Linked DNA regions of Homo sapiens. Changing the gene in region 1 together with any one later gene gives a genetic interaction. Each region holds a gene or a part of one and is shown on either strand. Other genes may lie near its edges. The genes, in order: ITGB7 and MAP2K7.

The links.
Region 2: changes in ITGB7 (region 1) and MAP2K7 together harm fitness more than expected from each alone (negative genetic interaction), as found in Homo sapiens cells (one large-scale study listed by BioGRID).

Annotation. Positions count from the first base shown.
Region 1 is NC_000012.12:53,193,868-53,197,388, reverse strand, and holds part of ITGB7 (integrin beta-7 isoform a precursor), read left to right. Parts: intron 1-568; coding exon 569-810; intron 811-1,189; coding exon 1,190-1,348; intron 1,349-1,667; coding exon 1,668-1,763; intron 1,764-1,925; coding exon 1,926-2,015; intron 2,016-2,246; exon of another isoform or gene 2,247-3,044; coding exon 3,045-3,191; exon of another isoform or gene 3,192-3,487; coding exon 3,488-3,521. UniProt on the Homo sapiens protein: Integrin ITGA4/ITGB7 (alpha-4/beta-7) (Peyer patches-specific homing receptor LPAM-1) is an adhesion molecule that mediates lymphocyte migration and homing to gut-associated lymphoid tissue (GALT).
Region 2 is NC_000019.10:7,906,640-7,910,446, forward strand, and holds part of MAP2K7 (dual specificity mitogen-activated protein kinase kinase 7), read left to right. Parts: intron 1-3,115; coding exon 3,116-3,257; intron 3,258-3,423; coding exon 3,424-3,490; intron 3,491-3,620; coding exon 3,621-3,734; intron 3,735-3,807. UniProt on the Homo sapiens protein: Dual specificity protein kinase which acts as an essential component of the MAP kinase signal transduction pathway. Essential component of the stress-activated protein kinase/c-Jun N-terminal kinase (SAP/JNK) signaling pathway.

The DNA.
Region 1 (3,521 bases):
AGTTGTTGACAGGCCTAGCCAGGCCACAGGTTCGTTCCTGCATCTCTCCCTAGACACCCATCTTCTAGGTCAGAGCTGGAGAGGACTCAAGAGACTATCCGTTTTACAGGCCTGAGACCCAGCGTCTGGAGAGACTGTGCTCAGGCACTCTCTGGGCCTGGACAGCTGCCCTGGGCCTACCAACCTGGAACCTGCCCTGATGCAAGTCTCCCTGGACAAGACCTAGATGCCACTGTCCCTGGCTCCACATTCTGTGCCAACTCTCCTCTATTCAAATTTCCTTCCTTTGCCTCATGCTGCTACCATATCCTATACCCGGGCCTTCTTCCGCCTTCTGGAAGTTCCCATTTGCCCAGGAAGTTGTGTCCTCCTCTTAATGTCTTCTACCTGCCACTTCCCTGAGCCAGTGGTCTCACTGCTTTGCTTGCCAGTTACCAGGTCCCTGCCCCCTAGGTGCACCCTCTCCCATCACCGTCCTCCCCACCCCACTTCCCATAGAGCGCTCTCATGGGTCCTCTGTTGCTGCCCTGCGACTTCTGGCACAACCTTCATTCCTCTCCTCTCCCAGGTTTTGGTTCCTTTGTGGACAAAACGGTGCTGCCCTTTGTGAGCACAGTACCCTCCAAACTGCGCCACCCCTGCCCCACCCGGCTGGAGCGCTGCCAGTCACCATTCAGCTTTCACCATGTGCTGTCCCTGACGGGGGACGCACAAGCCTTCGAGCGGGAGGTGGGGCGCCAGAGTGTGTCCGGCAATCTGGACTCGCCTGAAGGTGGCTTCGATGCCATTCTGCAGGCTGCACTCTGCCAGGTGAGGAGGTGGGGCGGGGATCTGAGCCTGGAGGTCTGTTTGGGAACAGGACTGCCCCTTATGGTTGTGTAGTGCACAGTTCTAGGGGGTGCCATTCATACCATAGTTGCTGTAGTTTGTATATTTAGCAATTACCTGGTGGGTTGGAGTAAAATATCTTGAGGAGGAGGCATGTTTTTCGAATTCACAAGTAAGCCTCCACTAGCAGCAGCCTTCTTTAGGGGGCTGGAGAGAGCAGGGAGAAGCAAGGTACTGGAGGCAAGGGGATGGACAAGCTGACTCAGAGTGAGGCTGGCCACATTCTTGGCTCACAGAGCTGGCTGGGGTGGCTCAAGGGCCATGCCCAGGTGCATAGCCTACCACCCCCACTGTAACTCAGGAGCAGATTGGCTGGAGAAATGTGTCCCGGCTGCTGGTGTTCACTTCAGACGACACATTCCATACAGCTGGGGACGGGAAGTTGGGCGGCATTTTCATGCCCAGTGATGGGCACTGCCACTTGGACAGCAATGGCCTCTACAGTCGCAGCACAGAGTTTGTGAGTCCCTATTGTCACCCTGCCTCTCCCCATTTCAGCCACACCTCTTTCCTTCCAGGACTCCCACTCCCAGCCTTACAGTCCTCACCAGTAACCACCCTGTAGACACCCTGCCATCTTCTCCAGCAGTTCCTCCTTTCAGCTGCCGAGACAGGACACCTTTGTCACCCCATTCCCTACCTCCTTCCTATTCCATAGCAAGCCTCCAGGGCTCCTCCAGCTGGTGGAACCTTGGTTCCTGGATTCCCTGGGCTGAGGGCACCTTGCATGTTGTGGGGGAAACCTGTGGGGCTCACCTTGTCCCTGCTCCCTGTCCCAGGACTACCCTTCTGTGGGTCAGGTAGCCCAGGCCCTCTCTGCAGCAAATATCCAGCCCATCTTTGCTGTCACCAGTGCCGCACTGCCTGTCTACCAGGTGAGAGCTGTCTACATGTCAGATCCCCCAGCCCCATCCCAACCTTTCTCAATTCCCCCAAAGATACATTCTCCGTCCCCCATATGCCCTCCTTCCAGACCTCCGGGAGCCCATTTTCCTAGAGCTGTGACCCACCATTTCCCTTAACTCCCCAAAACTCAGGAGCTGAGTAAACTGATTCCTAAGTCTGCAGTTGGGGAGCTGAGTGAGGACTCCAGCAACGTGGTACAGCTCATCATGGATGCTTATAATGTGAGGGGCCAGGGGAAGGGGAGATGGTGAGGGTGGGCACTAGGGAAAGGTGGAAAGGGGCCCTTGGGTGGGGTGGCAGAACTAAGAGGAAATGGTCACTTTTTGGTCTAACATTCCACAGCTCCTACCTATAGTCTGCATGTGGCTGTCATTAACTGTTCAATCTTACATTCATAAATCTTAAAACATCTGACATGCAGACAGCATGGAGCTCTGCTCTGGGCAAGAAAGGAAAGTTTCAATCACTGAGCTTTTATTTCATGCGCCCACCATCCTAGGTGTACATACTGTTTGCTACTTCATTTAACCCTGCCAAAAGCCTTGCTTCATAACTGTTACCATCCCTATTTTACAGATGAGGAAACCCACACAAGGAGGCTAAGTGACTTGTCCAAGGTCACAAAGATAACAAACAGAAGGGCTGGCATTTGTCCCCAGTCAGTCTGTACATAAACAATGTGAGATCTGGAGCCTGCTTTCACTAAGTTTATAAATAATTCAGAGCTATTCTTCACAAGAACCATAGAATTTTACAGGTAGAAGGAACCATAAAAATTCTTAGTGGTTTAGGTCTTACCTCTGCAACTAGGCTGTAGGCTTCTTGATAACAGGGAGCATCTCCTAAACCTATGGCAAGAAAATCTGAGACAGTATCAAATTTCCCAAGATAAACTCTGTAATGAATCTGCCCTTTAGACCTGGCATGCACCCAGGTTATGTGTCCTGATGTGGGGCTTCACAAACATGGTCTCTGTACATTTACAGCACCTGGCCAGCCTGTGACCCTCAGTGGCCCTTGCTGGCAGCTGCACTGAAATGCTGTATTAGAGGCCTCTGGATCCTGTATGTTCTATGCAAGGTTCTCACGGGTCCTCCCTCCAGAAATGCCTCGACTGGGCAGAATGGAAGGAGCCCCAGGTGGCAGAGGGCAGGGTGCTGGCAGAATTGGGAACACCTGGAGAGGACATAAGGTGGGGTTGGAGTCCTTTTCTGCCTTCACGTGGTTATCCACTCGCTCTCTTCCCATAGAGCCTGTCTTCCACCGTGACCCTTGAACACTCTTCACTCCCTCCTGGGGTCCACATTTCTTACGAATCCCAGTGTGAGGGTCCTGAGAAGAGGGAGGGTAAGGCTGAGGATCGAGGACAGTGCAACCACGTCCGAATCAACCAGACGGTGAGAGCCAGCAAGCACAGGCAGAAGGCGGGCAGGGGGAGGTGGGAGTGGGAAATTAAGCAGGCAGGAAAAGATGGGTGGCAGGTACAGGGAGTGACATGAGAGCCTGAGGTAGTCCTCCATCCATCCTTCCTGGAGCAGTCTGAGTGGCTTCCTCAGGCATGTTTCTAGGAGTTGGGTGTTAACATGACCCCATCCCTTCATTTACTAAGGGGTGAGGTTCTGGATGATTGGTGAGTTTGGGGTATGTGTGTGTGCATGTGTATAACCATGGCCTGATTCCTGCCTCTTCTCAGGTGACTTTCTGGGTTTCTCTCCAAGCCACCCACT
Region 2 (3,807 bases), on another chromosome or scaffold:
TTTGGGAGGCCAAGGAGGGTGGATCACTTGAGGTCAGGAGTTCGAGACCAGCCTGGCCAACATGGTGAAACCCTGTCTGCATTAAAAATACTAGAGATTAGGCCAGGCACAGTGACTCACACCTGTAATTCCAGCACTTTGGGAGACCGAGGCGGGTGGCTCACCTGAGGTCGGGAGTTCGAGACCACCCTGACCAACATAGAGAAACCCCGTCTCCACTAAAAATACAAAATTAGCCGGGCATGGTGGCACATACCTGTAATCCCAGCTACTCGGGAGGCTGTAATCCTAGCTACTCGGGAGGCTGAGGCAGGAGAACCGCTTGAACCCGGGAGGCGGAGATTGCAGTGAGCTGAGATCGCACCATTGCACTTCAGCCTGGGCAACAAGAGCAAAACTCCATCTCAAAAAAAAAAAAAACATAAAAGATTAGGTGGAGGTTGCAGTGAGCTGAGATCGCGCCACTGCATTCCAGCCTGGGCAACAGAGCAAGACTCCGTCTCAAAAAAAAAAAAAATTTAAAAAGCGTCTTGAAGGAGTTGGGGGGGGAGAGAAGACAGGGCCGCCAGGGCTCTGAGCGCAGCGCCAGCCTGTGTGGGGCATGCAGGCTGTGCCCCACGCCTGTGTTGGGAGAGAGAGTAGATGGGGTGCCTGGCCCTGTGAGTGGTTGTGAGTATGTGTGTCCGAGGGCAAGGGGGACTCTGTCCCGGCTGCATGGGTGTTAGGTCCACGGCATGCCCCGGGTGTGTGTTGTGCGTGCGTGCACTTGCACGGCATGTGCGTGCATGTTGACATGGCAGCCGGTGCACCTGTGGCTCCTGTCGGCAGACACGTGCCCTCCAGCCTCTCGCTCTCTCTCATCCGTTCTCTTTCTCATCCTCACCCTCTTGCTCTCACTCCACCCTCCTGAGCTGCCATGTGGCCATCACCACCTCTGTGGCCTCTGTTCTCAGGGCCTTTGTGTACCTCCTTCCCCCAGTGCCTACCTGAACCCTCCCTTCCATCCCCCCATGCTCCAGTCTGTGGTCCGGCAGCCTCCTCCCCAGGCTCCGGGGCCACCCTCGGAAGGCCTGGTGGGCTCTGTCAGGGAAGGGGCCCACAGGACTCCTCGAGGGCTGTGGTCGTCAACCGCTGAGTGCAGGGTGTGAGCGGGACTCGGATACTCTCTGAGGGCGGGAACTAGGCAGTGTCTCAAGAGATGCCAGGTGCACAGGGGTTGGGGGCTGGGTTGGGGGGAGCACAGGCCCTCGGGAGCCAGAAGGGGACTGGGGCTGTGGCTCAGGCCATGGACAGAGCAGAGGCGCAGGGACCTGAAGAAGCAGAGGGAGAAGCCTGGCCAACATAGCGAGACCCCATCTCTACTCAAAAGACAAAAATTAGCTGGGTGTGGTGGCGTGTACCTATAATCCCAGCTACTCAGGAGGCTGAGGCAGGAGAATCACTTGAACCTGGGAGGGGGATGTTGCAGTGAGTTGAGATCACGCCACTGCACTCCAGCCTGGGTGACAGAGCGAGAACCTATCTCAAAAAAAAAAAAAAACAGTGGGAGGTGACGTGGTGCTGCAGAGGCGGCAGTGGCCAGGACAGCGGGAGGGGCACGGGAGGTGAGGCCTCTAGGCCAGTCATGAACGCTGGGCCTGGCTGTGTCCCAAGGTCCCCAGAGCCCTTCCCCTGCTCCTGCCTGGTCCTCCAGGAGGGGAGCTAGGGGGCACAGCTCCTGCAGGGGCTGGCAGGACCAGATAGGGGCAATGCTGGGCCTCCTGCATTGGGACTGAGGCGTCTTCCTGCCCCTCCTACTGGCTGAGATCAGGGTCCTGGGCACACGGGAGGGACGGGGTTTAGCTGCCAGCATGGAGCGGGTTTGTCTGTTCATATTAGTCCCTGGGCACCAGTCACCAGGAGCCTGCAGAACTGTGGGGAGAAAAGGTGGACGAGGCAGGAGGAAAAGAGGGGAGAGGGGCTTGTTGGCTGAGGGCTTTGGAGAGCGGCAGGCCCCAGCTCCTGTGGGAGGGGCACCTTGGTAGGTGTGTGTAGCCGTTGTCAGGGCCTCTAGGATGTGACGTGTCAGGATTGGCTCCTCTGGAGGCCACGTTAGCATCCCGGCCTCTGTTCCTGCACCCTGTTGCCAGCCCAGCCAGGGAGACCCTAGCTCCTCCGGGAAGCTGCCCTCCTGTCCCAGGCCCCTCTCTGGCCTGTCTCTGCAGCGCCTCCTCTGGGCACCTGGGCCCTAGTCTTGGTTCCTGTCTGTCTGTCTGTCTCCTGCCCTCCCACCCCTAATGCCGCCTGCCCACCCCAGGGTGCCTGCTGCCTGCCCGCCGCCTGCCCACCCGCTGTAGCATGCCCGAGCTGCCCGCATGCAGGCTGCTGGATGAGCCAACCCCCGCCTGGCCCAGCATTGGCCCCACCTGGTCCCGCCAGCCCCTGCAGGAGCTGTGCCCCCGAGCTCTCCTCCCAGAGGATGCAGGCCCCCTGAGGTCCTGTCCTGCCCCCATGGGCCCCAGCTCTGCAGGCCAGGCCAGGAGGCCCTCATGTCAGCCCACTGGCCCGAGGGGGGCCCTCCCTGACCCCGGAACAGAAGATAGGGCAAGGCAGCCTGAAGCCTGGGTCTCGTGCCCGCTGCCTCCCCAGCGTGGCCCTGCTCGCTCTTGTCTGGGAGCCAACTTCAGTGCTACCAGCAGAGCCACAGCCTGGGCCAGCCCTGGCAGGCACTCCGCCCTGGCCTATCCATCCTGTGGGTGCTGTGGCCCTGGGCCTGCTTCCTGGGCAGAAGTGGGAGGAAGTGCACACACCTGTCAGGGAGGCCCCCTGGCCGAGGGACACCTCAGGTCCCCATCTCGTTTCTCCGTCAGCGTAGACTTGGGGCTCCCTCTCCCCTGCTAGCCTCCTCCATCTCTTTCCAGGTCAGGGGATGAGACAAGGGACCCTGAGAACAGTCTGGGGTGGGAGGGAGACCCCAGCTCCTCCAGCCCAGCAGGGCAGGGGGCTGTGCCAGCCTAGCTCGGGAAACCCAGGAGGGGAAGGTGAGGGTCCCGACCCCTCCCTGGAGTGCCAGATGTGGAGCTGACACCAGCTGGGCGCTGACCCCCCTCCCTGCCACTGGTTCTCACCCCCCTAGCCCTGCAGCTCCCGCTGGCCAACGATGGGGGCAGCCGCTCGCCATCCTCAGAGAGCTCCCCGCAGCACCCCACGCCCCCCGCCCGGCCCCGCCACATGCTGGGGCTCCCGTCAACCCTGTTCACACCCCGCAGCATGGAGAGGTGAGCCAGGGGCCCAGCAGGGTTGGGTGGGAAGCAGCATTGAGGGGCCACCGTGCCAGCCCTGGGAGGAGGGTGGTTAAACCGGTGGGAACCCCGGTATGGGGGACTGGGGTGGCCAACCTAAGGTCAGGACCCACCTCCACCGGCACCTGCTCCATGTCCCCAGCATTGAGATTGACCAGAAGCTGCAGGAGATCATGAAGCAGACGGGCTACCTGACCATCGGGGGCCAGGTACCACCTTCACTGTGGCGGGGAGAGGGAGGAGGCCCAGCCAGGCTGGACCCATCCTGGGAGCGCCAGTGGGGGGCAGGGGGCGGTGGCAGAGGCCCCAGGGACCCTCCAACCCTCCCTCTCCTCCCAGCGCTACCAGGCAGAAATCAACGACCTGGAGAACTTGGGCGAGATGGGCAGCGGCACCTGCGGCCAGGTGTGGAAGATGCGCTTCCGGAAGACCGGCCACGTCATTGCCGTTAAGGTGAGCCTTGGCGGCTACCCCGGCTGCGCCCCACACCCCAGGCCGGTGCTGAGGCTCCCTCCTGTCCCTGCCT